4 linked regions of the Homo sapiens genome follow. The gene in region 1 interacts genetically with each later gene. Each region holds a gene or a part of one and is shown on either strand. Other genes may lie near its edges. The genes, in order: RAB1A, EIPR1, TMED10 and SEC23IP.

Evidence for each region.
Region 2: changes in RAB1A (region 1) and EIPR1 are lethal when combined (synthetic lethality), as found in Homo sapiens cells (one study listed by BioGRID).
Region 3: changes in RAB1A (region 1) and TMED10 are lethal when combined (synthetic lethality), as found in Homo sapiens cells (one study listed by BioGRID).
Region 4: changes in RAB1A (region 1) and SEC23IP are lethal when combined (synthetic lethality), as found in Homo sapiens cells (2 studies listed by BioGRID, with this or other methods).

Annotation. Positions count from the first base shown.
Region 1 is NC_000002.12:65,127,094-65,134,435, reverse strand, and holds the start of RAB1A (ras-related protein Rab-1A), read left to right. Parts: upstream 1-4,329; 5' UTR 4,330-4,520; coding exon 4,521-4,543; intron 4,544-7,342. UniProt on the Homo sapiens protein: The small GTPases Rab are key regulators of intracellular membrane trafficking, from the formation of transport vesicles to their fusion with membranes.
Region 2 is NC_000002.12:3,367,796-3,374,818, forward strand, and holds part of EIPR1 (EARP and GARP complex-interacting protein 1), read right to left. Parts: intron 1-7,023. UniProt on the Homo sapiens protein: Acts as a component of endosomal retrieval machinery that is involved in protein transport from early endosomes to either recycling endosomes or the trans-Golgi network.
Region 3 is NC_000014.9:75,173,594-75,181,434, reverse strand, and holds the start of TMED10 (transmembrane emp24 domain-containing protein 10 precursor), read left to right. Parts: upstream 1-4,822; 5' UTR 4,823-4,855; coding exon 4,856-5,080; intron 5,081-7,841. UniProt on the Homo sapiens protein: Cargo receptor involved in protein vesicular trafficking and quality control in the endoplasmic reticulum (ER) and Golgi.
Region 4 is NC_000010.11:119,916,714-119,923,736, forward strand, and holds part of SEC23IP (SEC23-interacting protein), read left to right. Parts: intron 1-1,122; coding exon 1,123-1,331; intron 1,332-1,679; coding exon 1,680-1,798; intron 1,799-2,730; coding exon 2,731-2,883; intron 2,884-4,175; coding exon 4,176-4,271; intron 4,272-7,023. UniProt on the Homo sapiens protein: Plays a role in the organization of endoplasmic reticulum exit sites. Specifically binds to phosphatidylinositol 3-phosphate (PI(3)P), phosphatidylinositol 4-phosphate (PI(4)P) and phosphatidylinositol 5-phosphate (PI(5)P).

The sequences.
Region 1 (7,342 bases):
ACAGAGTGAGACTCCATCTCAAAACAACAACAACAACAACAACAAAAAAACACACACGAAAATATATATATTAAAGTTTGAGTCAGCAAAACTTTTAAAAAGTTTAATTTTTAGCCACTTTAAATTTGGAAAGGAAGTCTTAATGTAATTGCACATAAATTTCAGTGGGGGTAGAAAACACCCACCTACCATTCCCAGGCTAAGCTGCCTCTGACCTCTTCGCATAATATTCTACAACACGGAAGCTAAGCTATGAGGCTTTCTGTCCTTGGTACACAGCAGGTACACTTAAGACTTTCAGAGAAGCTGAGAGAAGTAGATGTTGGGGACCAGGACATACCACCTCAAATATCACTCTGGGGGACCAGAATATGCTCTCCTAAAATATTCTTCTTTGGTGGCATATTTTGAGCTGGTTATTCTAAGAAACTGTAGACACAGGAGTAGCTCTGAAAAGCTGTCCTTTTGTAAAATAAGTTTATGTCTACAAAGGAAATCTACATTAGTAACGTATCTATATCAGAGAGAGGGCTGCCTCAAGATAACTTTTATTACCTGAGAGACTTTTTATCTGCATGGCAGGACAATCTTTCTTTACCATGCATTTCCCCTCTTGCCCTCCTGTAGCTTATCATTACCTCTCCGAAGGCCCCAAGCCCCAGTTTTGTTTTTTTTTTTGAGATGGAGTCTTGCTCTGTCACCTAGGCTGGAGTACAGTGGTGTGATCTCAGTTTACTGCAACCTCTACCTCCCGGGTTGAAGATATTCTCCTGCCTCAGCTACCTGAGTAGCTAGGATTACAGGTACCCGCCACCATGCCTGGCTAATTTTTTCAATTTTTTTTTTTTTGAGATTGAGTCTCGCTCTGTTGCCCAGGCTGGAGTGCTGTGGCACAGTTTCGGCTCACTGCAATCTCCGCCTCCCAGGTTCAAGCGATTCTCCTGCCTCAGCCTCCCGAGCAGCTGGGATCACAGGTATGTGCCACCATGCCCAGCTGATTTTTGTATTTTTAGTAGAGACGGGTTTTCACCATATTGGTCAGGCTGGTCTTGAACTCCTCAAATGATCCACCTGCCTTGGCCTCCCAAAGTGCTGGGATTACAGGCGTGAGCCACTGTGCCTGCCCAATTTTTTGTGTTTTTAGTAGAGACAGGGTTTCGCCAGGTTGGCCAGGCTGGTCTCGAACTCTTGACCTCTAGTGATCCACCCACCTTGGCTTCTCAAAGAGCTGGGATCACAGCCGTAAGCCGTAAGCCACCGCGCCCGGCACCAAGCCCTATTCTTTTTTTTTTTTGAGATGGACTCTCGCTCTGTAGCCCAGGCTGGAGTGCAGTGGTGCCATCTCAGCTGACTGCAAGCTCCGCCTCCCGGATTCACGCCATTCTTCTGTCTCAGCCTCCCGAGTAGCTGGGACTACAGGCAGCCGCCACCACGCCCAGGTAATTTTGTTTTTGCATTTTTAGTAGAGACTGGGTTTCACCGTGTTAGCCAGGATGATCTTGATGTCCTGACCTCGTGATCCACCCGCCTTGGCCTCCCAAAGTGCTGGGATTAGAGGCGTGAGCTACTGCACCCGGCCACCAAGCCGTATTCTTTTCTGTAGCTCAGGATGCTTCAATCATCAGACCCTTCTTGGAGTCTCTTATTTTGAGGAACTCCCATGCATATGTACTTAATCAAATATGATTTTCTCCTGTTAATCTGTCTTAGGTTAATTTAGTTCATAAACTAGCCAAGGAACCTAGCAGGGTGGAGGGAAGTCATTTTTTTGCTCTCCTACAGAGAAAAGTAATTAACATTTACCAAGGGTCCCAAAGCCATTGTACTATATGCTTTACATTGTGTTTATTCAACGCTTACAGCTATCCTGTCACTTAGATTAAAAGCTACTAGGAGGTAATTTTTTTTTTTTTGGTGGTTGTTGTTGAGACTGAGTCTCGCTCTGTTGCCAGGCTGGAGTGCAGTGGCGCGATCTCGGCTCACTACAACCTCTGACTCCCTGGTTCAAGCCATTCTCCTGCCTCAGCCTCCCGAGTAGCTGAGATTCTGTAATCTCACGTGCCACACGCCACCACGCCCAGCTAATTTTTGTATTTTTAGCAGAGACGGGGTTTCACCATGTTGGCCAGGATGGTCTCGATCTCCTGACCTCATAATCTGCCCGCCTTGGCCTCCCAAAGTGTTGGGATTACAGGCGTGAGCCACTGCGCCTGGCAGGGGGTAATTCTTTGTTGGGAAAGAAAATAGTTAATTAAAGGAAGTTTGGGAGTATACTTCCCAGGGGAGGACAGATTGTATTTTTGGCTGAGGACGAGTTCTGGACAGTTTTCTGAGGGTTTTTTGGGGGTGTGTGTGTGTGTGTGTGTGTGTGTGTGCCTTTACTAGTGACTCAGGTCACAGTTTTCTGAGATTTTTTTTCTCCCCTCAAGACAGAATCTTGCTCTGTCGCCCAGGCTGGAGTGCAGTGGCCTCTCGGCCCACTGTAGCCTCCGCCTCCCGGGTTCAAGCAATTTTCCTGCCTCAGCCTCCCGAGTAGCTGGGATTACAGGCACGCGCCACCATGCCTGGCTAATTTTTGTATTTTTAGTAGAGACAGTGTTTCACCATGTTGGCCAGGCTGGTCTTGAATTCCTGACCTCGTGATCTGTCCGTTTTGGCCTCTCAAATTCCTGAGATTACAGGCATGAGCCACCGAGCCTGGCCAGTTTTCTGAGTTTTTATTTGAAATCAAAATAAGCTTTTTTTTTTTTTAATGGGCTTTAGAGTCCAGGGTAACGAACACTTTTTGGTGCCTATTACTGAACCATTCAGGGTATTCCTGGGGTGGTGACCGTGTTCATTTCAGAAACCAACATGTTCATTTCAGAAACCAAACTCGGGTAACTTTTGATAAGTTCATCAACTAAGGCCCATGGCAGAATTTGAGGGCTAAGGGGTGTAATTAGTGTATGGGTAGAAATAAGTGCCTTCTTTCTATATTTTGGCGTTGTAGGAATTTAAAGTGATTCTGCAGTAAGTCTCAGGAGACAATTTTCTTAGTTCTTAGAAGTTGGAAGATAAACTTTGGACAATGTATTACACTATGCCCTTTGTAATTAAATAACTCAAGATAATGTGTTAAAGTTTAGCGGAGATTTAAATTCCTGAGCTGATTAAAGAGAGCTGTTAAGGCCATAGGTTTTTTAAAAATGAGTTAATATTACTCCCAGAAATTGTAGGCACTATATAGTGATGAATTGCCTATTTTTATTGCTTATTATTTTCCAGTCTTGCAGAATGGCTCAGGGTTAGTAGCAACTAAAAGATAATACATTACAATTCAACCTGAAGGCCGGGACGAAGGTAGGAATTGGATTTTAGGCTGGCTCTGGGCTGTGTCCCTCCCATCCATGGGATGTGGAGCCATTGAAGGTTGTGGGGTCACGATGCAGGTGCTGTCTCAGAAAGATACATCCGACTGTGTGTGCAAATGGGCTGGGGCGGAGAGGAGAGAGAGAGGTAGAGTCCATTTGGAGACTACTGCAATAGCCAGGCTGACGAGTTAAGAGCGGGGCACAGTAAGAATGGGAAGAAATCTAAGAAGAAAATGGTAGTGCGCGGGGCCAACAATGGACGATGACCGAACCCAGGTGGGGATGGGTGAGTGACGAGAAGAACCGCTCCGTGCCGTCCAGGGAGCCCCTTGACTTCCCTTCTGTTCTTAGAGCGGACGTCCTCCTACCAGCCCCCAACCAGCGCCACCAGGGTGGCGCAAGCCTCAAGCTGGTCAGGTCAGCAACAGCCGCAACGGAGGCAGGAGCCGACACGCTCGTACCCCGGCCCCCTCCCCGCCCCCGCACCCCCGGCAGTCCCTCCGGTTTGACCACTCCCCCCGGTCCCTTGCCTCCCCCGACCCCCAGCCTCCGTCGGCCGCCGGCACCACCCTCCGCCCCTCTCCGCCCCCTCCCCCGTGGGGCGCTGACTCGCCCGGCTGCCACGTCTCACTGATGACATCACTAGGGCAGCTCGGCCTTAGCCAATCCGCCAGGGGGAGTCCGAGCGAAGTCCTAGCCAGCGAGTCAGAGGGGAGGGGAGCAGGGAGGGGCCGAGGGTGGGGAGGTGAGGGAGTGGGGAATGGGGCGGGCGACAACCCTTCAGGTACGCATGCCCCAGAGGCGCGGCGCTTGGCGGGAAGCTGAGTCCTGGCCTTGCGTCGCACTGTCTGTCCTCAGCTCGCGTAGCCGCGCTCGCGACTCCCTTTCCCGGCATGCCAGGCGGTGCGGCCGCCCTCTGGGCCGTGTAAAGGCCCCTCGGTCTAAGGCTTCCCTATTTCCTGGTTCGCCGGCGGCCATTTTGGGTGGAAGCGATAGCTGAGTGGCGGCGGCTGCTGATTGTGTTCTAGGGGACGGAGTAGGGGAAGACGTTTGCTCTCCCGGAACAGCCTATCTCATTCCTTTCTTTCGATTACCCGTGGCGCGGAGAGTCAGGGCGGCGGCTGCGGCAGCAAGGGCGGCGGTGGCGGCGGCGGCAGCTGCAGTGACATGTCCAGCATGAATCCCGAATAGTGAGTTCAGGAGAGCACCGGTCGGCTGGGTCCGTGGGCCAGCTTGGGGGATCTTAAAGGGGTCGAGGAGGGTTGGGGCAGAAGTCGGGGCATCGGCTGGGGTGAGGCGAGGGTGATGGGTCAGGAGAGGCTGGCGGCCGGGAGTCGGGCCCCATTGTCTGACGCGGAGGGGCGGCCGCGCGGGGGAGGGGTCGGGCCGGAGGGGTGAGCCGCCCGGGCCTGGACCGGGTCAGGTTAGAGGGCCTGACTGCGGGGCGGGTGCTGAGGAAGCCTGCCGAGGGGCCTGGGGCGGTGTGAAGGGGTATCTTCTCTCGGAGGCAGTGACTTTTGAAGGAGGACTTGTCTCTAAGGGGAGGGGATGGGGTGGGAGAGCCCTTCTAGAGGGCACTGTCAGACCCTGCGCCCGCACTCTGCGGAGCTGTCAGGATCTTCGGGGTAGAAACCAGCTTTACTTGTAAATCCTGAGCTTGTTGGCTCTCTCTCCTTCCATCCTCCCCGCCAGGTTTCAGGTAATATGGATGCTTTTCGGGACTGCGTGGGATTGAGGGGAATGAGTAGATGGTGAGAAGCAACTGAACATTTATTAGTTCTCTTTTTGAGTTGTGTCTTGGAGGAGTTGTTTAAGAGCTCGCCGGGTCCATTGCCCTCCTATAAAAACCTGGGCATTTGTGAGAATTTTGTTTTTTTTTTTTTTAAAGAGGACACCTAAGTCATTTTGTCTTCTGTGGGTCAAGGGAAAAAAAAAAAACTAAAGCCAAGAAATGTCTTTTTGATACTCGCAGATTAAAGGAAGCTTGCTGTCAAGTTGAAAGAGAAACGAACGGGACCTATGATAGATCTGTATGTAGGTTTTGGATTACCTGCTTGGATGCTTGCAGATAGGGAATGAGGTTCCATGACGTGTCATGAAAAGTTAATGCATTTCTTTTTCTTGCTTACTCAAGAAGTCACCACAGCAGATGTGACACACCTGGCACCTTTCCTGGGAACTGGTGTTCACTTCCCTTGGGTAGAGTTTGTTGGGCTCTCCTCAATGGCCCTTTAAAAATTTCCTCTACAGTTTACATGCATGTAAAGTAATGAATAATTGGAAGAGACCGAATTGGTATTCCTTTTCAGTGTCAAAGGCCTTTGAGGGATGGGGGAACATCAGTATTTGTTGTAAAAGTTGAGTTTATTTGCTGGTTTGGTCAATTACTGCTAGACATTTTCCCCTAAAAGGTCCACCCACCAGTTTAGCTGACTGTCATATGTGTGTCACATGGCTCTTGCAAAATGCTTACAAGTTTTGTAATAGTGTGGCTTGAAGCTGAAATCTTTTGCACTAAACAGAAACCGTAGTATTTTATTAGAATTTCATGTTTTAGAAGTTGAGGGTAGTGTTCTTGTAGTGACATTTGCTGTGTTGACAGTTTAAAAAAAATTTTTTTTCAAGGGCTCCAAGGACAAAGTTGGTTTTGCACAGTTGAACGGAGGTGAACTTGAGGTTCTTAATTTAGTAGTTTTCTTGGTAACAATAAAGAACATGGATTTACTGCTTTATCGAGGTTTATAGACCTCTACTGTTCAGGAAATTTTCTGAATTTGCTATATATATGTTTATTAGTGTAAATAAATCTTCAAGATTAGTTGAGAACTTTGACAAGTTACTCAGCCTCTGAATTTTTTTTCCCTTTTGTAAAATAGGATAATTGGAGTCATTATTCCTGTCAGGGTAGTGGTGAAATTCAAATGTATATAAAAGAATTTGAAAAACCGTGTGAGCATTCTTCAGGTGGTATGCATCATTTTCATGAAAGGCATTCTATTAGTACCAGGATTTAGGAATATAATCCTTGCGCTTAAGAAGTTTAGATATAGGCCAGGCGCGGTGGCTCACCTCAGTAATCCCAGCACTTTGGGAGGCCGAGGCGGGCGGATCCCGAGGTCAGGAGATCGAGACCATCCTCGGTAACACGGTGAAACCCCGTCTCTACTAAAAATGCAAAAAAATTAGCCGGGCGTGGTGGTGGGCACCTGTAGTCCCAGCTACTCGAGAGGCTGAGGCAGGAGAATGGCGTGATCCCGGGAGGTGGAGCTTGCAGTGAACCAAGATCTGGCCACTGCACTCCAGCCTGGACGACAGAGCAAGACTCCGTCTCAAAAAAAAAATTATTTATTGTTTTGAGACGGAGTTTCAATCTTGTTGCCCAGGCTGGAGTGCAATGGCGCAAATCTCCTCTCACCGCCACCTCCGCCTCCTGGGTTCAAGTGATTCTCCTGCCTCAGATTCCCGAGAAGTTGGGATTACAGGCATGTGCCACCACTCCCGGCTAATTTTGTATTTTTGGTAGAGACGGGGTTTCTCCATGTTGGTCAGGCTGGTCTCAAACTCCCGAAGTGATCCGCCCGCCTCAGCTTCCCAAAGTGTTGGGATTACAGGCGTGAGCCACCGCGCCCGGCAGAAATAGATTTTATACATGTCAAATACCAGTAGATATAGCAAATTCCAGATGTGTGGCATGGATGAGAGCAACAAGATTTCAGGGGGATGGTGGGTTGTGGTTGGCTATCTGGGTTTTGGAAGACTTTATAGAAGAGAGACCTGAAAGGGATTTATCAGCAATTAGATTTGGAGGAACAGAGGGAGTGACTAGGAATTTTCAAGGGGGAGAAGAAGGAGGAATGGCTCATAAATGACAAGGACAGTAATTAATAAGTAAATACGGTGTCAAATCATCCTTTCTTTTGAAGACTAATGACCTCAAAGGGATCAAACCCAGAAACAGTTTTTATATTTTTTCTGGGATCAAATACATG
Region 2 (7,023 bases), about 62 Mb from region 1:
CCCAGCACTTTGGGAGGCCAAGGCAGACGGATCACAAGGTCAGGAGATCGAGACCATCCTGGCTAACACCCTGAAACCCCCTCTCTAAAAATACAAAAAATTAGCCAGGCGCGGTGGCAGGCGCCTGTAGACCCAGCTACTCAGGAGGCTGAGGCAGGAGAATGGCGTGAACCCGGGAGGCGGAGCTTGCAGTGAGTTGAGATCGCGCCACTGCACTCCAGCCCGGGTGACAGAGCGACTCTGTCTCAAAAAAAGAAAAAAGAAAAGAAAATTTAATCTCCATCTTCCATTTCAAAAGTCTTTCCTCACTTGGCAACAGGCAGACCCTGAAGCGCTGGCCTGGTCCATCTGTCCCTCAGACTGATGGCACAAAAAGCCAAAAGCCCACAGTCTCTTTGCCCCTCTGACCTGACTGCACTGATCTCAGGACTCCAGGAGAACCTCCCAGAACAGAAAGGAGGCACGCATATCCTTGTGTGGCTTACAACCTGCCCTGCTTGCTTCCTGGTTTTGGTGGTAAACCGAAGGGAAAGCAACTTGAAACAAGCCCAAGTCATCATTGTCACCCACCTTCCCACCCCGACCGTCCTTTCTGGTCTGGCCCAGCTCACTTGGCAGCAGTGGGCTCAAATAGGAGTTGGCAGATGTAGCCCTCACTCTGCCCACACCTGCAGGCCCTGCTTGCCGCTGGTCCATCTTAGTCACATGCCTGCCCCCAGACCTACACATGGGCAGAGCCACCACTGCCTAGAGGTTCACTGTTCCCATCACAAGGCAAGTTTGCCACATGGAGATTTGACCCACACAACAAAGAAGATCTATTAATGTCAAAAGTTCAAAGAAACATGATTGCAGGAGAGAAGTCATACTGTTTGTATGCACTTTGAGATAGTCACAAAGAACTACTGTTGTGTTAACTGACAAGTATTCATTAAACTCATATTGAGAAAATGGATTTCTACTGAGCAGTAAACTAAAAGTGTGCAAAAGCATTTCAAATATCATTTGAAATTTCATGCATTTCAAATATAATTATAAAAAAATCCAGAATCATTACCATGAATTTGCTCAGCATTTTGCGATCTTAACGACCCTCCGTGTTGGTCTTTTATTTGCAGTTGCAGTACTGCCCTTTATCTTTCAAGTGTCATTACCTTCACTCAGCGGTCAACGATCAGATCTCTATCCTTTCATGTAAAGTGTTCTCCATGGGATTTGAATGTCACTGACAAACAAACAAAAAAAAACACTATCCTTTTCAGTTTTCTTGTTTACTGCAATGATGGTTCTTCAAACTTAAGAAAGTCTTGGTCCATGATACTATCCGATAAAATCCAAGTAGCAAAAGTCAGCTACTTCTTTTAAGATAAAGAAGAAAATCCAATAATATATTTGACTACCTTAGAGAATCAATTTCATTCATTTTTCAAACCTCAGAAAATAATATTTCAGGGAGGAGCCAAGATGGCCGACTAGGAACAGCTCCGGTCTAGAGCTCCCAGCGTGAGCAACGCAGAAGACGGGTGATTTCTGCATTTCCATATGAGGTACCGGGTTCATCTCACTAGGGAGTGCCAGACAGTGGGCGCAGGTCAGTGGGTGCAGCGAACCGTGCGCAAGCCGAAGCAGGGCGAGGCATTGCCTCACTCGGGAAGTGCAAGGGGTCAGGGAGTTCCCTTTCCTGGTCAAGGAAAGGGGTGACAGACAACACCTGGAAAATTGAGCCACTCCCACCCAAATACTGCGCTTTTCCGACGGGCTTAGGAAACAGCGCACCAGGAGATTATATCCCACACCTGGCTCGGAGGGTCCTATGCCCACGGAGTCTCGCTGATTGCTAGCACAGCAGTCTGAGATCAAACTGCAAGGTGGCAGCGAGGCTGGGGGAGGGGCGCCCGCCATTGCCCAGGATTGCTTAGGTAAACAAAGCAGCCGGGAAGCTCGAACTGGGTGGAGCGCACCACAGCTCAAGGAGGCCTGCCTGCCTCTGTAGGCTCCACCTCTGGGGGCAGGGCACAGACAAACAAAAAGACAGCAGTAACCTCTGCAGACTTAAATGTCCCTGTCTGACAGCTTTGAAGAGAGCAGTGGTTCTCCCAGCACGCAGCTGGAGATCTGAGAACGGGCAGACTGCCTCCTCAAGTGGGTCCTTGACCCCTGACCCCCGAGCAGCCTAACTGGGAGGCACCCCCCCCGTAGGGGCAGACTGACACCTCACACGGCCGGGTACTCCTCTGAGACAAAACTTCCAGAGGAACGATCATACAGCAACATTCGCGGATCACGAAAATCCGCGGTTCTGCAGACACCGCTGCTGATACCCAGGCAAACAGGGTCTGGAGTGGACCTCTAGCAAACTCCAACAGACCTGCAGCTGAGGGTCCTGTCTGTTAGAAGGAAAACTAACAAACAGAAAGGACATCCAACCAAAAACCCATCTGTACATCATCATCATCAAAGACCAAAAGTAGATAAAACCACAAAGATGGGGAAAAAACAGAGCAGAAAAACTGGAAACTCTAAAAAGCAGAGCGCTTCTCCTCCTCCAAAGGAACGCAGTCCCTCACCAGCAACGGAACAAAGCTGGACGGAGAATGACTTTGACGAGTTGAGAGAAGAAGGCTTCAGACGATCAAACTACTCCGAGCTACAGGAGGAAATTCAAACCAAAGGCAAAGAAGTTGAAAACTTTGAAAAAAATTTAGACGAATGTATAACTAGAATAACCAATACAGAGAAGTGCTTAAAGGAGCTGATGGAGCTGAAAGCCAAGGCTCGAGAACTATGTGAAGAATGCAGAAGCCTCAGGAGCCGATGCGATCAACTGGAAGAAAGGGTATCAGTGATGGAAGATGAAATGAATGAAATGAAGCGAGAAGGGAAGTTTAGAGAAAAAAGAATAAAAAGAAATGAACAAAGCCTCCAAGAAATATGGGACTATGTGAAAAGACCAAATCTGCACCTGATTGGTGTACCTGAAAGTGATGGGGAGAATGGAACCAAGTTGGAAAACACTCTGCAGGATATTATCCAGGAGAACTTCCCCAATCTAGCAAGGCAAGCCAACATTCAGATTCAGGAAATACAGAGAATGCCACAAAGATACTCCTCGAGAAGAGCAACTCCAAGACACATAATTGTCAGATTCACCAAAGTTGAAATGAAGGAAAAAATGTTAAGCGCAGCCAGAGAGAAAGGTCGGGTTACCCACAAAGGGAAGCCCATCAGACTAACAGCGGATCTCTCGGCAGAAACTCTACAAGCCAGGAGAGAGTAGGGGCCAATATTCAACATTCTTAAAGAAAATAATTTTCAACCCAGAATTTCATATCCAGCCAAATTAAGCTTCATAAGTGAAGGAGAAATAAAATACTTTACAGACAAGCAAATGCTGAGAGGTTTTGCCACCACCAGGCCTGCCCTAAAAGAGCTCCTGAAGGAAGCACTAAACATGGAAAGGCATAACCGTACCAGCCGCTGCAAACTCATGCCAAAATGTAAAGACCATCGACATTAGGAAGAAACTGCATCAACTAACAAGCAAAATAACCAGCTAACAGCATGACAGGATCAAATTCACACATAATATTAACCTTAAATGTAAATGCACTAAATGCTCCAATTAAAAGACACAGACTGGCAAATTGGATAAAGAGTCAAGACCCATCAGTGTGCTGTATTCAGGAAGCCCATCTCACGTGCAGAGACACACATAGGCTCAAAATAAAAGGATGGAGGAAGATCTACCAAGCAAATGGAAAACAAAAAAAGGCAGGGGTTGCAATCCTAGTCTCTGATAAAACACACTTTAAACCAACAAAGATCAAAAGAGACAAAGAAGCCCATTACTTAAGGGTAAAGGGATCAATTCAACAACAAGAGCTAACTATCCTAAATATATATGCACCCAATACAGGAGCACCCAGATTCATAAAGTAAGTCCTGAGTGACCTACAAAGAGACTTAGACTCCCACACAATAATAATGGGAGACTTTAACACCCCACTGTCAACATTAGACAGATCAACGACACAGAAAGTTAAAAAGGATACCCAGGAATTGAACTCAGCTCTGCACCAAGCGGACCTAATAGATATCTACAGAACTCCCCACCCCAAATCAACAGAATATACATTTTTTTCAGCACCACGCCACACCTATTCCAAAATTGACCACATAGTTGGAAGTAAAGCTCTCCTCAGCAAATGTAAAAGAACAGAAATTATAACAAACTATCTCTCAGACAACAGTGCAATCAAACTAGAACTCAGGATTAAGAAACTCATTCAAAACCGCTCAACTACATGGAAACTGAACAACCTGCTCCTGAATGACTACTGGGTACATAATGAAATGAAGGCAGAAATAAAGATGTTCTTTGAAACCAATGAGAACAAAGACACAACATACCAGAATCTCTGGGACACATTCAAAGCAGTGTGTAGAGGGAAATTTATAGCACTAAATGCCCACAAGAGAAAGCAGGAAAGATCCAAAATTGACACCTAACATCACAATTAAAAGAACTAGAAAAGCAAGAGCAAACACATTCAAAAGCTAGCAGAAGGCAAGAAATAACTAAAATCAGAGCAGAACTGAAGGAAATAGAGACACAAAAAACCCTTCAAAAAATTAATGAATCCAGGAGCTGGTTTTTTGAAAGGATCAACAAAATTGATAGACCGCTAGCAAGACTAATAAAGAAAAAAAGAGAAGAATCAAATAGACGCAATAAAAAATGACGAAGGGGATATCACCACCAATCCCACAGAAATACAAACTACCATCAGAGAATACTACCAACACCTCTACGCAAATAAACTAGAAAATCTAGAAGAAATGGATAAATTCCTCAACACATACACTCTCCCAAGACTAAACCAGGAAGAAGTTGAATCTCTGAATAGACCAATAATAGGATCTGAAATTGTGGCAATAATCAATAGCTTACCAACCAAAAAGAGTCCAGGACCAGATGGATTCACAGCCGAATTCTACCAGAGGTATAAGGAGGAACTGGTACCATTCCTTCTGAAACTATTCCAATCAATAGAAAAAGAGGGAATCCTCCCTAACTCATTTTATTAGGCCAGCATCATCCTGATACCAAAGCCGGGCAGAGACACAACCAAAAAAGAGAATTTTAGACCAATATCCTTGATGAACATTGATGCAAAAATCCTCAATAAAATACTGGCAAACTGAATCCAGCAGCACATCAAAAAGCTTATCCACCATGATCAAGCGGGCTTCATCCCTGGGATACAAGGCTGGTTCAATCTACGCAAATCAATAAATGTAATCCAGCATATAAACAGAACCAAAGACAAAAACCATATGATTATCTCAATAGATGCAGAAAAGGCCTTTGACAAAATTCAACAACGCTTCATGCTAAAAACTCTCAATAAATTAGGTATTGATGGGAAGTATCTCAAAATAATAAGAGCTATCTATGACAAACCCACAGCCAATATCATACTGAATGGGCAAAAACTGGAAGCATTCCCTTTGAAAACTGGCACAAGACAGGGATGCCCTCTCTCACCACTCCTATTCAACATAGTGTTGGAAGTTCTGGCCAGGGCAATTAGGCAGAAGGAAATAAAGGCTATTCGATTAGGAAAAGAGGAAGTCAAATTGTCCCTGTTTGCAGACGACATGATTGTATATCTAGAAAACCCCATTGTCTCAGCCCAAAATCTCCTTAAGCTGATAAGCAACTTCAGCAAAGTCTCAGGATACAAAATCAATGTACAAAAATCACAAGCATTCTTATACACCAATAACAGACAAACAGAGAGCCAAATCATAAGTGAACTCCCATTCACAATTGCTTCAAAGAGAATAAAATACCTAGGAATCCAACTTGCAAGGCACATGAAGGACCTCTTCAAGGAGAACTACAAACCACTGCTCAATGAAATAGAAGAGAATACAAACAAATGGAAGAACATTCCATGCTCATGGGTAGGAAGAATCAATATCGTGAAAATGGCCATACTGCCCAAGGTAATTTATAGATTCAATGCCATCCCCATCAAGCTACCAATGACTTTCTTCACAGAATTAGAAAAAACTACTTTAAAGTTCATATGGAACCAAAAAAGAGCCCTCATCGCCAAGTCAATCCTAAGCCAAAAGAACAAAGCTGGAGGCATCACGCTACCTGACTTCAAACTATACTACAAGGCTACAGTAACCAAAACAGCATGTTACTGGTACCAAAACAGAGATACAGATCAATGGAACAGAACAGAGCCCTCAGAAATAATGCCGCATATCTACAACTATCTGATCTTTGACAAACCTGACAAAAACAAGCAATGGGGAAAGGATTCCCTATTTAATAAATGGTGCTGGGAAAACTGGCTAGCCATATGTAGAAAGCTGAAACTGGATCCCTTCCTTACACCTTATACAAAAATTAATTCAAGATGGAATAAAGACTTAAACGTTAGACCTAAAACCATAAGAACCCTAGAAGAAAACCTAGGCATTACCATTCAGGACATAGGCATGGGCAAGGACTTCATGTCTAAAACACCAAAAGCAATGCCAACAAAAGCCAAAATTGACAAATGGGATCTCATTAAACTAAAGAGCTTCTGTACAGCAAAAGAAACTACCAACAGAGTGAACAGGCAACCTACAAAATGGGAGAAAATTTTCACAACCTGCTCATCTGACAAAGGGCTAATATCCAGAATCTACAATGAACTCAAACAAATTTACAAGAAAAAAACAAAAAACCCCATCAAAAAGTGGGCAAAGGATATGAGCAGACACTTCTCAAAAGAAGACATTTATGCAGCCAAAAGACACATGAAAAAATGCTCATCATCACTGGCCATCAGAGAAATGCAAATCAAAACCACAATGAGATACCATCTCACACCAGTTAGAATGGCAATCATTAAAAAGTCAGGAAACAACAGGTGCTGGAGAGGATGTGGAGAAATAGGAACACTTTTACACTGTTGGTGGGACTGTAAACTAGTTCAACCATTGTGGAAGTCAGTG
Region 3 (7,841 bases), on another chromosome or scaffold:
ACTACAGGCATACACCACTATGTCCAGCTAATTATTGGTATCTTTTGTAGAGATGGGGTTTTGCCATGTCACCCAGGCTGGTCTGGAACTCCTGGACTCAAGCAATCTGCCTGCCTCAGCCTCCCAAAGTGCTGGGATTATAAGCGTGAGCCACTGTGCCCAGCCCGAATGCAAATTTTTAGTAAGAGCTTCTGATTCACCATCTGGGGTGAGGTGTATTTTAAACATGCCCCCTCTTACACAAAGGAAAATTTGAGAAACCTATGGCTTAGGGATAGATTGGCAGAGGGTGTCTTCATGATATTTCTTCACCTCCAGAGGCTCCAGTGGCTCAGGAATCTTAGGTGGATTTGGCTGGGGAAGTTTCAGGATGACAGGACGGCAGAAGACTGCTGGCCAGAGAGAAGCATTTACTGTAGTTATGGGACACTTTCCATTTGCTCTCCAAGTCAAATGAGGCCTTTCTACCATGCAGATGTAAAACGGTATCTTTTTTTTTTTTTTTTTTGAGTTGGAGTCTCGCTCTGTCGCCCAGGCTGGAGTGCAGTGGCGCAATCTCAGCTCACTGTAACCTCTGCCTCCTGCGTTCAAGCGAATCTCGTGCCACAGCCTCCCAAGTGGCTGGGATGCAGGCGTGAGCCACCACACCCAGCCAATTTTTGTATTTCTAGCTGAGATGGGATTTCACCATGTTGGCCAGGCTGGTCTCGAACTCCTGACCTCAAGTGATCTGCCTGCCTCAGCCACCCAAAATGTTGGGATTATAGGCGTGAGCCACCGCGTCTGGCCCAATGGTAACTTCTTTTTTTTTTTTTTCTTGAGATGAGTCTCGCTCTTTCGCCAGGCTGGAGTGCCATGGCGCAATCTCAGCTCACTGCAACCTCCACCTCCCAGGTTCAAGCAATTCCCCTGCCTCAGCCTCCCAAGTAGCTAGGACTACAGGCACGTGTCACCACGCTGGGCTAATTTTTTGTATTTTAGTAGAGACGGGGTTTCACCATGTTGGCCAGGATGGTCTCCATCTCCTCCTGACCTCATGATCCGCCTGCCTCAGCCTCCCAAAGTGCTGGGATTATAGGCTTGAGCCACGATGCCCGGCCGGTAACTTCTTTAACACAGGTGCAGGCTTAAAAGTCTTGGTTCCATTCCACAGCATACAGAGGAGAATTGTTTTTGTTTGTTTGTTTTTCTGTGTCCTTATATAGAAACAAGAGTGTATTTTCCATTTTTTTTAAGAAAAGATAGACATGTTGGTGACACTGAAACTGTACCTATGCTTTAGATACATTATGGATTAAACAAATTTATGTGAAAACAGCTAAAGAATAATGGGAGAAATTTGTGGTTGCGCTTTCTAAGGTACCAGTCTTAAATTCATTGTACCATTATTTATTGTACCTAAGTGCTAGGCACTGTTTTAGGTTCAGAAGATAAAACAGTGAAAAAATAGATAAAAATCCCTGCCCTCACAAAACAGACATTCTAGTTAGGGAGACAGACTAATAAACACAATAAGTAAGTAAAATGTATGCTTTATTTGATAGTAATGAGTGCTAAGGGGAAAATTATAAAGGAGGGAAGAAAGACAGGAGGTGTTGGAGGATGGGGATAAGTAAGACTACAGGACAAGAAAGGACTGGAAGCCGGGCGCAGTGGCTCACACCTGTAATCCCAGCACTTTGGGGGCTGAGGTGGGCAGATCGCAAGGTCAGGATGTTCAAGACCAGCCTGACCAACATGGTGAAACCCTGTCTCTTCTAAAAATACAAAAATTAGCCGGGCATGGTGGTGCGCGCCTATAATCCCAGCTACTCAGGAGGCTGAGGCAGGAGAATCACTTGAACCCAGGAGGGGCAGGTTGTGGTGAGCTGAGATCGCACCACTGCGCTCTAGCCTGGGCAACAGAGCCAGACTCCATCTCAAAAAAGAAAAGAAAGGACTTGAGAGCTGTGACACAGAAAAGTAACTGCTGTGCATCTGAGTTTCTTCATCTTTAAAATAAGAAATAATAGCATCTTCCTGAGGATAGCTCAGGCCCCTAGACTGCTTTTGTCACTTTTAAGCTTATGAGGTTTGGGGTACTGACAAAGATTCTCTCCTTGACCAAACTTTACCCACGCTGTTCTGATCTGTCTTCTCAATAGGCTCTGACTTTTGGACTTCCATGACTCTGCATTGTCCAATTTTAGGAAGAATCCTGCTAAGTTAGTTTAGCCAGAATCTCCCCTTACTCCCAATATTTCCTTTTAGTAATTTTCCATCCACTGACCCTGATTTTTGGCTGTAAATCCCTACTTTTCCTTGTATTTGGAATTGAGCCCGATCTCTCCTTCCTACTACAAAACCCCATTGTCATAGGCCCTTGTATTACCTATCTTGGCAGTCCCCCTTGAATAAAGATTTGCTTTACAATTTTTTTTTTTTTTTTGAGAAGGAGTCTCGCTCTGTCGTCCAGGCTGGAGGGCAATGGTGTGATCTTGGCTCACTGCAACCTCCACCTCCTGGGTTCAAGCAATTCTCCTGTCTCAGCCTCCCAAGTAGCTGGGATTACAGGTATCCACCACCATGCCCGGCTAATTTTTTGTATTTTTAGTAGAGATAAGATTTCATTATGTTGGCCAGGCTGGTTTCGAACCCCTGACCTCAAGTTATCCGCCCGCCTTGGCCTCCCAAAGTGCTAGGAGTACAGGTGTGAGCCACCGCCTCTGGCCTGCTTTACAGTTCTTTAACAAATGTCATGAAGTATTTTTTCTTTAACAGTATAATTATTTGGCCTCTCAGAACCTCGGTTTCCTCATCTGTAAAATGAACAGATTGTCCAGACTATTTCACAGGGTTTTTGAAAATGTCAGAGGAGATCATTATGATATGTGAAAATATTTTAAATTGCATTATCTATTATGTAAATGTAAGATGGAAATTTAAAGGAAACACATACACAGTTTTTTCATGGGTTGAGATCTCTTGCTATTGGTCAGCAGAGCCTCAGGAATGCAAGTAGACAATGAATTAGATAACTGCTTATACTGATTCCCTGCATTGGCAGGGAAAAGGCCAATGCAAATTATCAGGATGTACTGTGTGGACTACCAATCTTATCTTAGATCAGTGATACAACAATCCAACTAAATGCTCCTAAGTGGACACCTCATAAAATAATTATTGTATGGCATTTGTCAAAATTTTAAATGCTTTACAGCTCCTTTGTTTGTTCTTGTTTTGTCTGTGGGATTTCATTTCTAGGAAAATAACTAAATGGACTAAGTTTAAAAAAAAAAAACACCAATCATGTACATTACTAAGGGCAGACAGTCCATCTTCTGGATATTTCTGAAGATGCTCAATAAACGTTAATCAAAGTAGGTAATGATTCCCAACATGGGCTATTGTGTCTTCCACGTTTATTTTCTACACTTGATGTTAGCCAAAAGGCCAAGGAGCAATTCCATTTTCTTTCTTTCCTTCTTTCTTTTCTGAGACAAGTCTCACTCCGTCGCCCAGGCTGGAGTGCAGTGGCGCCATCTCAGCTCACTGCAACCTCCATCTCCCGGGTTCAAGCAATTCTCTGCCTCAGCCTCCTGAGTGGCTGGGATTACAGGCGCCCGCCACCAAGCCCAGCTAATTTTTTTGTATTTTTAGTAGAGACGGGGTTTCACCATCTTGGCCAGGCTGGTCTTGAACTCCTGACCTCGTGATCCACCCGCCTCAGCCTCCCAAAGTGCTGGGATTACAGGTGTGAGCCACCGCGCCTGGCCGTTTATTTTAATATATTCTTCAGCTCTGAATATTTGCTAGTATCCCAGTAATAGTTTGTTAAATCAATAAACGTGTTGACATACATGCATAGCATAATGTCTGGCACACAGTAGGTACTCCATTGAATGAATGCATGAATTATTACCGTGTCAATTTGCTTGTCTATTTGCAAATGTTAATAGTTAATTTGATCCCTAAAGTGTTTGTGAACTTAAAACACACACATACGCACTTTCCCTGACAACGCTTATCTGCTAACCCCTTAATTATGTTCATCTGAGACTGGACCAAAACATGTTGTTTTATTCAATTTAAATACCAAATTCAAATTTATTTTGAATATAGCTTAGAACACATTCAATGTTTGCTAAAATAATAATAATAATAATAATAATAATAATAATAATAATACCATGTACATTCAGTTAGCCAGACAATTACTCCAGCCCAAATACCCTGCTATGGGACATGAACCGGATGTCTGCCCGGCACACATTCATCAGGTGACCCCTAAAACTTCTTCTCTAAGGTCCACACTGTCTAATAGCCAAGTTGAAATCTTTCCTCGAAATTTTCCTCTCTAGTGTCTCAGTGCCCCAGGTGTCATCAAGGTGTCAAAGGCGCTTGGGAGTGCCTGCAAACCGCCCCATCCCCGGAGACACAGCCTCATTCCCCGCCCTCGCGCCTAGGCGGCCGGTGGGCGGGCCCAGCGAAGGGCCTTGTGGCTGTTTCCTATTGGGGCTTGGTTGCTATGGTGTCACTCGCCTTTAAACTCGTGGGTACATCTTTCGGAAATTAAAGGAGAATTACTTCCAGGGCTGCCCATACTTGCCATGGCCGACTCAGTAGTCACTAACTTCAACAAAAATAAAACTGTTGCAATAGTATTCTATTAAAGCTTCTTTAACTGCTTAAACTTGCGGTTTTGACATGGTACCTATCCTTTCTTCCCTTTTCAAAAGATTCGCTATAGAGTCTTTCTCTACATGCCAGTCTCCAAAATGGCGCGGACGGCATCAGAAGGTCAGAGGTGAGTCACGTGGGTCCCCCCGGTTCCGGCGCGGTTGAGGCCTTCGGTGGTGAACGAGTCTCCAGCACCATGTCTGGTTTGTCTGGCCCACCAGCCCGGCGCGGCCCTTTTCCGTTAGCGTTGCTGCTTTTGTTCCTGCTCGGCCCCAGATTGGTCCTTGCCATCTCCTTCCATCTGCCCATTAACTCTCGCAAGTGCCTCCGTGAGGAGATTCACAAGGACCTGCTAGTGACTGGCGCGTACGAGATCTCCGACCAGTCTGGGGGCGCTGGCGGCCTGCGCAGCCACCTCAAGGTGCGGCATTGGGCGACGTGGGGCCGGGAGGGAAGACGGCAGGCTTAGGCGAGGGGAGGCTCGGGTTCGGGGGAGTCGGGCCGGCGGAGGCCTGGGAGTTGTTCTGGCCTCCCGGGAGCGCAAAGGACGTGCGGTGGAGCCCGCCCCCTCACCCCGCTGGTTGCCTGTCGCGGGGCGGGGCGGGTCACCAACGCCTGGGAACCCCAAGAAGGGCTGCGAGGCTTTGGCGGATGTGGTGACACCTGAGCTGGGGCGGTTGTCAACGTCCTATACCAGTTTTGGTCTCAGATACATTGAACCGTAATTTGGTTCTCCAAATAAATGTTGGGGTGTTGAATATTTATACGGATTGGCATCATAAGATACCGCGATACCTGCAGGAAAGTAAAGGAGACAGAGCTAACCGTGATTAATAAAATGTTATTTATTGAGCATCTGCTGTGTCAGTTACTGTGCTACTTTGCATATATTACCATTTGGTTCATGCACTACCCTATGAAGTAGGTAGGTACTGTTAGCCCCATTTTACAAATGAGGAAACTGAGACTCAGAGGTAGGATAAACTAGTAAGTGTCACAGATGGAATAGATTCTTTTTTTTTTTTCAAAATTATTATTATACTTTAAGTTCTAGGGTACATGCGCACAACTTTCAGGTTTGTTACATATGTATACATGTGCCGTGTTGGTGTGCTGCACCCATTAACTCGTCATTTACATTAGGTATGTCTCCTAATGCTATCCCTCCCACCTCCCCCCACCCCACGACAGGCCCCGGTGTGTGATGTTCCCCACCCTGTGTCCAAGTGTTCTCATTGTTCAATTCCCACCTATGAGTGAGAACATGCGGTGTTTGGTTTTCTGTCCTTGCGATGGAATAGATTCTTACTTAGTTTGGTAGTTAAGTATGTTGAGGGAAAAGCGCTGCAACCTTATTCCTTCCTTGTTTTAAATTTGTAATTTCTGTAGTTGATTAAAGTCGATTATTGGTTACAAAATGGTCTCAGTCTCTAGTCCTTTTTCTTTGGTATGCCAGAATCTGGACTTGGCTCTTTTATGTAAATACCAACTATGCTCTTGGATGGTGACAACTACTGCCATAATACCAGTTTGATTCTGTTTTGTAGCTAAGAGTAGCCTGGCCTGGTCTTTGAGACATTAATATAATTTGATATCTGTCAGTATTTGGTTGCATTTTAGGTAATTTTATTCATTCACAATAAGCAAAGTGTCTTTTTTTTTCTTTGTAACACAATGGGGCTTTTGTTATACTAAATAGAAACATTTTTACTTTTTTTTTTTTTTTTTTTTTTTTTGAGACGGAGTCTTGCTCTGTCGTCCAGGCTGGAGTGCTGTGGCGCGATCTCGGCTCACTGCAGCCTCTGCCTCCCGGTTTCAAGCAATTCTCCTGCCTCAGCCTTCCGAGTAGCTAGGACTACAGGCGCCAGCCACCACACCCAGCTAATTTTTGTATTTTAGTAGAGATGACGGTTCACCATGTTGGCCAGGATGGTCTTGATCTCTTGACCTCGTGATCTGCCCGCCTCGGCCTCCCAAAGTGCTGGGATTACAGCCGTAAGCCACCGCGCCTGGCCTCGTTTTTACTTTTTAAAAGGGTTTCAGATATAATAAGACCATAACTTATGTTAAAGTAGTGGAACCCAGTAGTGTGGTAATACATGTAATTTATTTCTACTTTATTTGGGAGAGACAAACTATTTTCAGGGCAATTAATCTGTGACCCATCATTTTATTATTCTGTTTGGGTATCAAACTCTCTACCCAGGAAAATAGTGATGGCATGATTTTAGAAGCTTAGATATAGTGTTTCCGGGGTGGGAGATCATGCTTCCAACTCTTCAGAGGATGTTCATGGACTCAGGGAATTTCAGCAATGAAAGAGACCTTGCTCTCATCTCGTGTTGCTGTCTGATTTGTTCTTATATTTTAAAGCCCTTCAGTGGCTCACTATTGCTTATTGATAGTTTAAATTTCTCAACATGCTTTGTTGTGCTCTTCATGATCTGTTTCTGAGCTATACGTGTGGTCACTTCCCACTTTGCATTCTACATGGAGCCACCCTGGACAGTACCCTGAACTCACTTATTTTCTGAACTGTTTTTGTTTATGCCTTGACCTACTTACTAGACTGTTAGTATCCTCAGGGTAGGAACTATTTTCAGGTTCATCTTTTCTAGAATGCCAAGCATGTTACCTTGCTTCTAGTAAGTACTCTATAAATAACAGGAACTGTAGTTTAGCATGGCCTTATGGGAATTACATTGAATTTAGGGCTGCTGAAGGCACCTCAACAGCAGGACTTTAGGCCGGGCTTGGTGGGTCATGCCTGTAACCCTAACTCTTTGGGAGGCCGAGGCGGGTGGATCACCTGAGGTCAGGAGTTCAAGACCAGCCTCAGCAACATGCTAAAATCCAGTCTCTACTAAAAATACAAAAATTAGCTGGGCATGGTGGCGTGTGCCTGTAATCCCAGCTACCCGGGAGGCTGAGGCAGGAGAATCACTAGAACCTGGGAGGCAGTGGCTGCAGTGAGCTGACACCGTGCCACTGCACTCCAGCCTGGGCAACAGAACAAGACTCGGTCTCAAAACAAAACAAAACAAAGCAAAACAAAAACCAGCAGGACTTTGTGCACACACCCTAGCACTTTACTATCACTCAGTTGCTCTCCTGTGTCTGCTCTGTTCTTTTGCTACTAACCAGCTTAATGGAACCACAAGGGTCCTAAACCCAAATGCCAA
Region 4 (7,023 bases), on another chromosome or scaffold:
GTCCAGATTTGCAGTTAACTGGAAGAAAAATGGAAGAGTAATCTTCCCTCTTTAAAAATAAAATAGAAATCTTTGCATATGACTTATATAGCAACTAACTCTTCAGAGAATCCCAAAATTCATAGTATAGTTATAGGCACAAATAACTTTAAAAAAAAAACTGAATTGTTTTTGAGACAGCATCTCACTGTCACCCAGGCTCTGGAGTGCGCTGGCATGATCATGGCTCACTGTAGACTTGGCCTCCTGGGCTCAAGTGATCCTCCCACCTCAGTCTCCCAAGTAGCTGGGACTATAGGTGCAAGCCGCCATGCCTGGCTAATTTTTAAATTTTCTGTAGAGATGGGGTCTCACTGTGTTGCTCAAGCTGGTCTTGATCTCCCGGGCTCAAGCGGTCCTCCTGCCCTAGCCTCTCAAAGTGCTAGGATCACAGGCATGAGCCACCACATGTGGCAGCACAAATTTTTTTGGTTTACCTTTATTTATACTTTTAATTTTTTTTTTGATGTGGAGTCTCGCTCTGTCACCCAGGCTGGAGTGTGGTGGCACAATCTCGGCTCACTGCAACCTCCACCTCCTGGGTTCAAGCGATTCTCATGCCTCAACCTCCCAAATAGCTGGGTGTACAGGTGTGTGCCATGACTTGTGGCTAACTTTTGATTTAAATTTTTTTTTTTTTTTTTGAGGTGGAATCTTGCTCTGTCGCCCAGACTGGAATGCAGTGGTGCAGTCTCAGCTCACTGCAACCTCTGCCTTTCAGGTTCAAGCAGTTCTCCTGCCTCACCCTCCTGAGTAGCTGGGATTACAGGTGTACACCACCACACTCGGCTAATTTGTGTATTTTTAGTAAAGACGGGGTTTCGCCATGTTGGCCTGGTTGGTCTTGAACTCCTGACCTCAAGTGATCCACCCACTTCAGCCTCCCAAAGTGCTGGGATTACAGGTGTGAGCCACCGCATCTGGCCTATCTTGATTTATTTATAATGACTATCTACAGAAACAACTCATAGTCTGTGGGGTTTTCTTAGTGTATTTTCAGGAGTCAAAAATCTAAACTTTAAAAAAATCTGTAAATTTAAGGTAGATGCTGACTGAATGTGCTGTATTTTTCTTTTTAAACAGGAATATTAAGAAAATCACTTTGCCAAGTATTGGTCGATTTCGTCACTTTACCAATGAAACTTTGCTAGATATTTTATTTTATAACAGCCCCACCTACTGTCAGACAATTGTGGAAAAAGTAGGAATGGAGATAAACCATCTGCATGCACTCTTTATGAGTCGGAACCCAGACTTCAAAGGAGGTGTCTCTGTTGCTGGTCACAGTTTAGGTAAAACTGTCAAATATTCACATTTTAAATACAATTTTTGTTGAGTCATAACTGCTTTCAGTGTAGGTGATATTGTTAGTGCAAAATTAAGAATTACAGATTTTAAGTTTCAGAAAAGGTAGAAATGAATGCTCTGAGTTTAGATTCTGCCTTTTCTATATTCACCTCTAGTATTACCTAGGGAATGCTATGTATTTTACTTTATTCTGCTGTTTGATAAAATAATTAATTATCAGGTCTTGAATAACATGTAACTTCTGTATGACTTTTGACTATAGACAGTGAAAAAAGAATTAGTGTTATAAAAGTACCTACTACATTATAAGGCAAAATGTTTCTTTTTCATAGGTTCTTTAATATTGTTTGACATCCTGTCTAATCAAAAAGATTTGAATTTATCAAAGTGCCCTGGACCTCTTGCTGTTGCTAATGGAGTTGTGAAGCAGCTACATTTTCAGGAAAAGCAGGTACGTCTGTACGTGGCCAATTAACATTTCGATTTAGAGTCTATGGAGCTGAACAATTTTCAAAAGTCTGAACTGTTTCTTGAAACTTTTGTTTGTTTGTTTGTTTGTTTGTTTGTTTTAACTGAGCCTCATTGGTTGCTTGGGCTAGTCTTGAGTTCCCTCCTGGCCTCAAGCGATCCTCCTGCCTTGGCTTCCCAAAGTGCTGGCATCAATAACTCTTCAGAGAATCCCCAAATTCAGAGTACAGTTATAGGCCCAAATATAATAGCTTCCGTGTCCAGCCCTGAAACTGGTTTTACATATTAAAGTACACCGAGGTTTAGAAATGGAATGGAATCATATAGCTCATTATTTGAGTTTCTCACTCTTCTTCTTTATGGGTTATAAATTTAAATGTGAAAGTTTGTGATTTTTAAAAATGTAAATTATAGGAAATGGAGACTTGAGTGATTTATTAAATTTATATACTTTTCAGAATATTCAATTTTTTTTTTTTTTTGAGGCGGAGTTTCACTTTTGTCACCCAGGTTAGAGTGCAATGGTGTGATCTCGGCTCACTGCAACCTCCGCCTTTCGGTTTCAAGCGATTCTCCTGCCTCAGCCTCCCGAGTAGTTGGGATTACAGGCGCCTGCCACCAAGCTGAGCTAATTTTTGTGTTTTTAGTAGAGACAGGGTTTCATCATGTTGGCCAGGCTGGTCTTCAACTCCTGACCTCAGGTGATGCACCTGCCTCAGCCTCCCAAAGTGCTGGGATTACAGGCGTGAGCCACTGGGCCTGGCCAGAATATTCAAACTTTGAATGGCAAAGTACTGTGCCTAAAATTATGATTTCTGTGTAAAGCAAAATTGTTTGAGAGTTTTCGTAGATCAGCAGTCATTATATGGGAGTTTTTCTGAGCTTGTAATGTTTTTCATACTTTTTTTTTTAAAGATGCCTGAAGAGCCAAAGCTGACTTTGGATGAGTCGTATGACCTTGTTGTTGAAAATAAAGAAGTCCTAACTTTGCAAGAAACTCTGGAAGCACTTAGCCTCTCTGAATATTTTAGCACTTTTGAAAAGGAAAAGATTGATATGGAGTCCCTGGTACTGATCATAGTTTGCTTCATTTTGTTTGAAATTGTTTTTCTTGTGTAGATTGAAAATTAAGAATAAACATTTTCGTATCAAAATACACTCCAGAGTAGACAAAGACTGAAATGTTTTAAAAAATTGAAAAACACAGAAGAATATTTTTTTATAATCTGAAAGGCTTTTCTGAGTATGATGCAAAATCCAGAAGCCATCAAAGAAAAAAATTGTATAACAGTAGACACCATAAACAACATCTAAAGGCCAGTGATACATTTGCAACACACATTATAGACAGAGGGCTTACTTCATTGATTTTCAAAGCTTCTACAAATCAGTTACAGAAAGACCATCACATCAGTGTGATATGTAAATAGGCAAAGAATATAAACATGATTTACAGAAAAGGAAATAACAAATGGTGTCTTCGCATATGAAAACTCATAAGAGAAATGGAAATTGAAAGTACAATGGGATTTTTTTTAACTTACCAGTTTGAAAAAATAGGAAGTTTGAAAATATGCTATGTGGCCAGGGTGAAGGGAACTAGGCATTGTTATATATTGTTGGTCAGACTGTAAAATATTACAAACTCTTTGGAAGGCAGTTTGGCAATATCTTTAAGAATATAAAAATTACCCTTTGCTTCATCAGTTTCATTGCCAGGAATATTTCCTATAGAGAAATATTCAAACAAGAATTATCTACAAGGATACTCACAGCAGTGTTTGCAAGGTAACAAAACATTAGAGACACCATTGGTGTTGAGGAGTAGGGTGCTAGTGAAATCATTTATGGTGCATCCGCATAACGGAGTACCCTACAGCTGTTGAATGAATGATGCAGTGTCAGAGATACCCGTCTCTAAGGTACATTTACATGAAGAGAGCAGAGTTCATTACTGTGTGCATAGTAGAGCACACACACAGAGAAAAACATGTAAGTGCTATGCATACATAAGACATCGCTTCAAAGAGAGCAAGTTTCCACAGTTGCGCTGAGAGGAGAATTCTATGTTTGGGACAGCAGTGGGAGGAAGATATTTCATCGTATGCTTGACTATAGCTTTGGAATTTTGTATACCATATGTGTATTTTCTGTTAATTAATAGAATGATTTAGGTGTGGAAGCCTAAGATTTTATAGCCTAAACTGATGCATGATTTAAATACAAAATAACTAACTTGTAAAAAGTTGAGTGGCTCTTAGATTGCTTTAGATGATGTGGTTTCTTTATAATTTTCATATTCTCATTTCAGTTCTTCTATCACTAGATTGATTAATGTGCTTGTCTGTTTCCTTTTAAAGCTTATGTGTACAGTTGATGACCTGAAGGAAATGGGGATACCCCTTGGACCCAGAAAGAAGATAGCTAACTTTGTAGAACATAAAGCAGCCAAACTGGTAAAGTTCACCTCTGACTCAAGAAAAACTAAAACTCATGGTGTGACCAGCTCGTTTATATTATAGAAAATTTTAATACTACTATGGTTAGGTAAGCTAGTTTGCTCCCTACCTAGGGCACAGTAATGGAGCTGATGGAAACCCAGACTTAGGAGTCAGAGTTGGGCTTAAGTCCACATTAGGCTAAGTGACCATCCTGGTTTTCCTGGGACTAAGTTCCTAGGATGAAGGGCTTTCAGTTTTAAAATGGATATTTAAGGTTTTCCTGGTGCAAACAGTGGTTAAGTTCTGACAAATAAATTCTCAGCTCAACTGCTCATTAACTGCGTATTAATGAGCAATTTGTATTTGGTTTTATTCATTTGTTTATTTTGAGATGGGATCTTGCTGTGTTTCCCACTGCTGGTCTCAAACTCCTGGGCTCAAGCTATCCTCCCGCCTCAGCCTTCTGATCATGAGTGATTTTCTTAATTTTTCTGATCCTTTGTTTTCTTCATTTCTAAAATGGAATAATACCTTCCTTACAGGATTGGAGTAAGCATGAAATAATGCATGCAAAGCTTAGCACCAAGTAATAGCTCACTTTCTTCCCAGTCCTTACCATCTAAAGAGATGAGGAAAAACATACACACTGAAGTCTTAAACACTAAACAGCAAAAATTGTTAACAATACAAAACAAGGCAACAGCTAAAAAGCATTTAAAACTAGAACAACTGGAAAATATACTTGTTTTATTAATTTTAATTTATTGATCAAATTAATTTTACAGAGGTTTTCTAATTAGAAAAATTAGATGACTCTTAGGGTGGCCGTCTTATTTGTATTGTTATTAACATGCTCTTTGATGATCCTTCCATCTTTTGAATTTCTATGGTTCTATTATTTTACTACCTGTTTGGAACTTAACCTACATCATTTCTTTATATGGGAAATGACTATAAAGTCATAGGACTGATTTTTTTTTTAATGGTTAGCTTAAGGAATTGAGTCTTCTCAGCATTTTATTGAATAGCAGCTACCTCTTTTGAGTCAGGCACTGTGTTCAATTCTTGGGAGCCGGAGATTAACCAAGAGTGTGCTGTCTAGTTGCGGGGAGCACGTTGAGCTCAAATGACAACATACCAGCCCCATAATAGCGTGCTGTGTGTGCTGTCCTGAGGCAGATGAGAGGTGGCAGTTCTGGCTTGTTGAGACAAGCATGGGGTTGGTGAGAGAAGACTTCTCCAAGGTGATGGTGCTTGAGCTTGAAGGAGGGGTAAGGTCAGGGGAGATGGCCTTCTGGAATCTGGCATGTGTTTTCCTGTAGCATCAGGGAAGCTGGAAACTGGGAAGGGCAGAGGGTTCCAAAGGCCCAGGTGGCAGGTGTGGAGGCTTGGATTTTCTCTTGTAAGGGAGTGGTTTTCAAACATGTTCTTATGGCCATGAAAGTCATGGTGTTTTTAAACATTACAAAATGCTGACCTGCTTATTCTATCACAAGTTATGATTTAGCACCAAATCATCTGTGTAGTCTAAATTTTAATTTTAACTTTTGGACTGTGGAGAGTTTGCTTGGTCACAGTGCACAGATGAAGTTGGAAAGGCGTGAAGTGGAGGCGGCTGCAATCTTACATAGTAGTAATTGTAATTGTACAGTGACTGAAAGAGAGATGATAGGGGTATAAGGTAGGAGGTGGAGAGGAAGGGAGCAACTCAAAAGACATTTTAGACATAGACAAGCAGTATTTGATTAAGTGCTGAGAAAGGTTATTAGTTTTGGCAGTTAAGAGGTATCTTTCATGTCATTTTTCTTGTGTGTTGAATCGTTCTGTAATTCCAATTTACAAAGAGCTTTTCATCTCACCTGAGCCTCACAACAACCCTGTGAGTAGATCCCCAGGCTTTTGTCTCTGATGAGCACAATAGTCAAACTGAGACTAGGACACAAGCATGTCAGTGTTGTTTCTGTATACAGGCTGCGTGCTCCATACAGAAAAATGCTTGTCTCCGTGTATACATCAGTGAAGCAAAAGCCTATAAAAAAAAAAACAAAAAAAACAAGAAATGAGAAGCTTTGTGTTCAGGCCCTACACCATGTTCTTAATTTATTCTGTAATGAAAGGGAAAAAAGTAGAAAAGGATTCTATAGTTCTTGAAGAATTTCTAGAAGGAGACTGGTTTATGGACTGCAGTTGCTTAGATATATAAATTATGGCATTATAAGAATGTTTTGAAATGAGCAAAAATCTATAGAGTGATCTTATTTTTTAAATTAAAAGGTAATTGCCTTTGGATGAACCATGAAACTTTCTCAGCTGAGTTGCCATTGATTGCTTTACACTTCTTACAGATAACAAGGTGCTACTAGATCAATACAAAAGTAATATGGTGTGTCCTGTTGATTTACTGTAACTGAAATAATGGGACCAAAATTAGCGATTATTTTATAACAAGGAGATCAAATATTTGTGATATTTGTGACTGTGTGCTTTTTTTTTCTTTTTAAAGCATCTTAGTAATTTTCATTTGAAAAGGAATTGTTTCTAGTGTTGGGGATATTGATAGTCAAGTATGTATATGTTGGTTCCGTTTTTTTTTTTTTGAAAGGGAGTCTTGCTTTGTCTCCCAGGCTGGAGTGCAGTGGCACGATCTCGGCTCACTGCAACCTCTGCCTCCCAGGTTCAAGCCATTCTCCTGCTTCAGCCTCCCAACTAGCTGGGATTATAGGCGTCTGCCACCACACCCAGCTAATTTTTGTATTTTTAGTAGAGA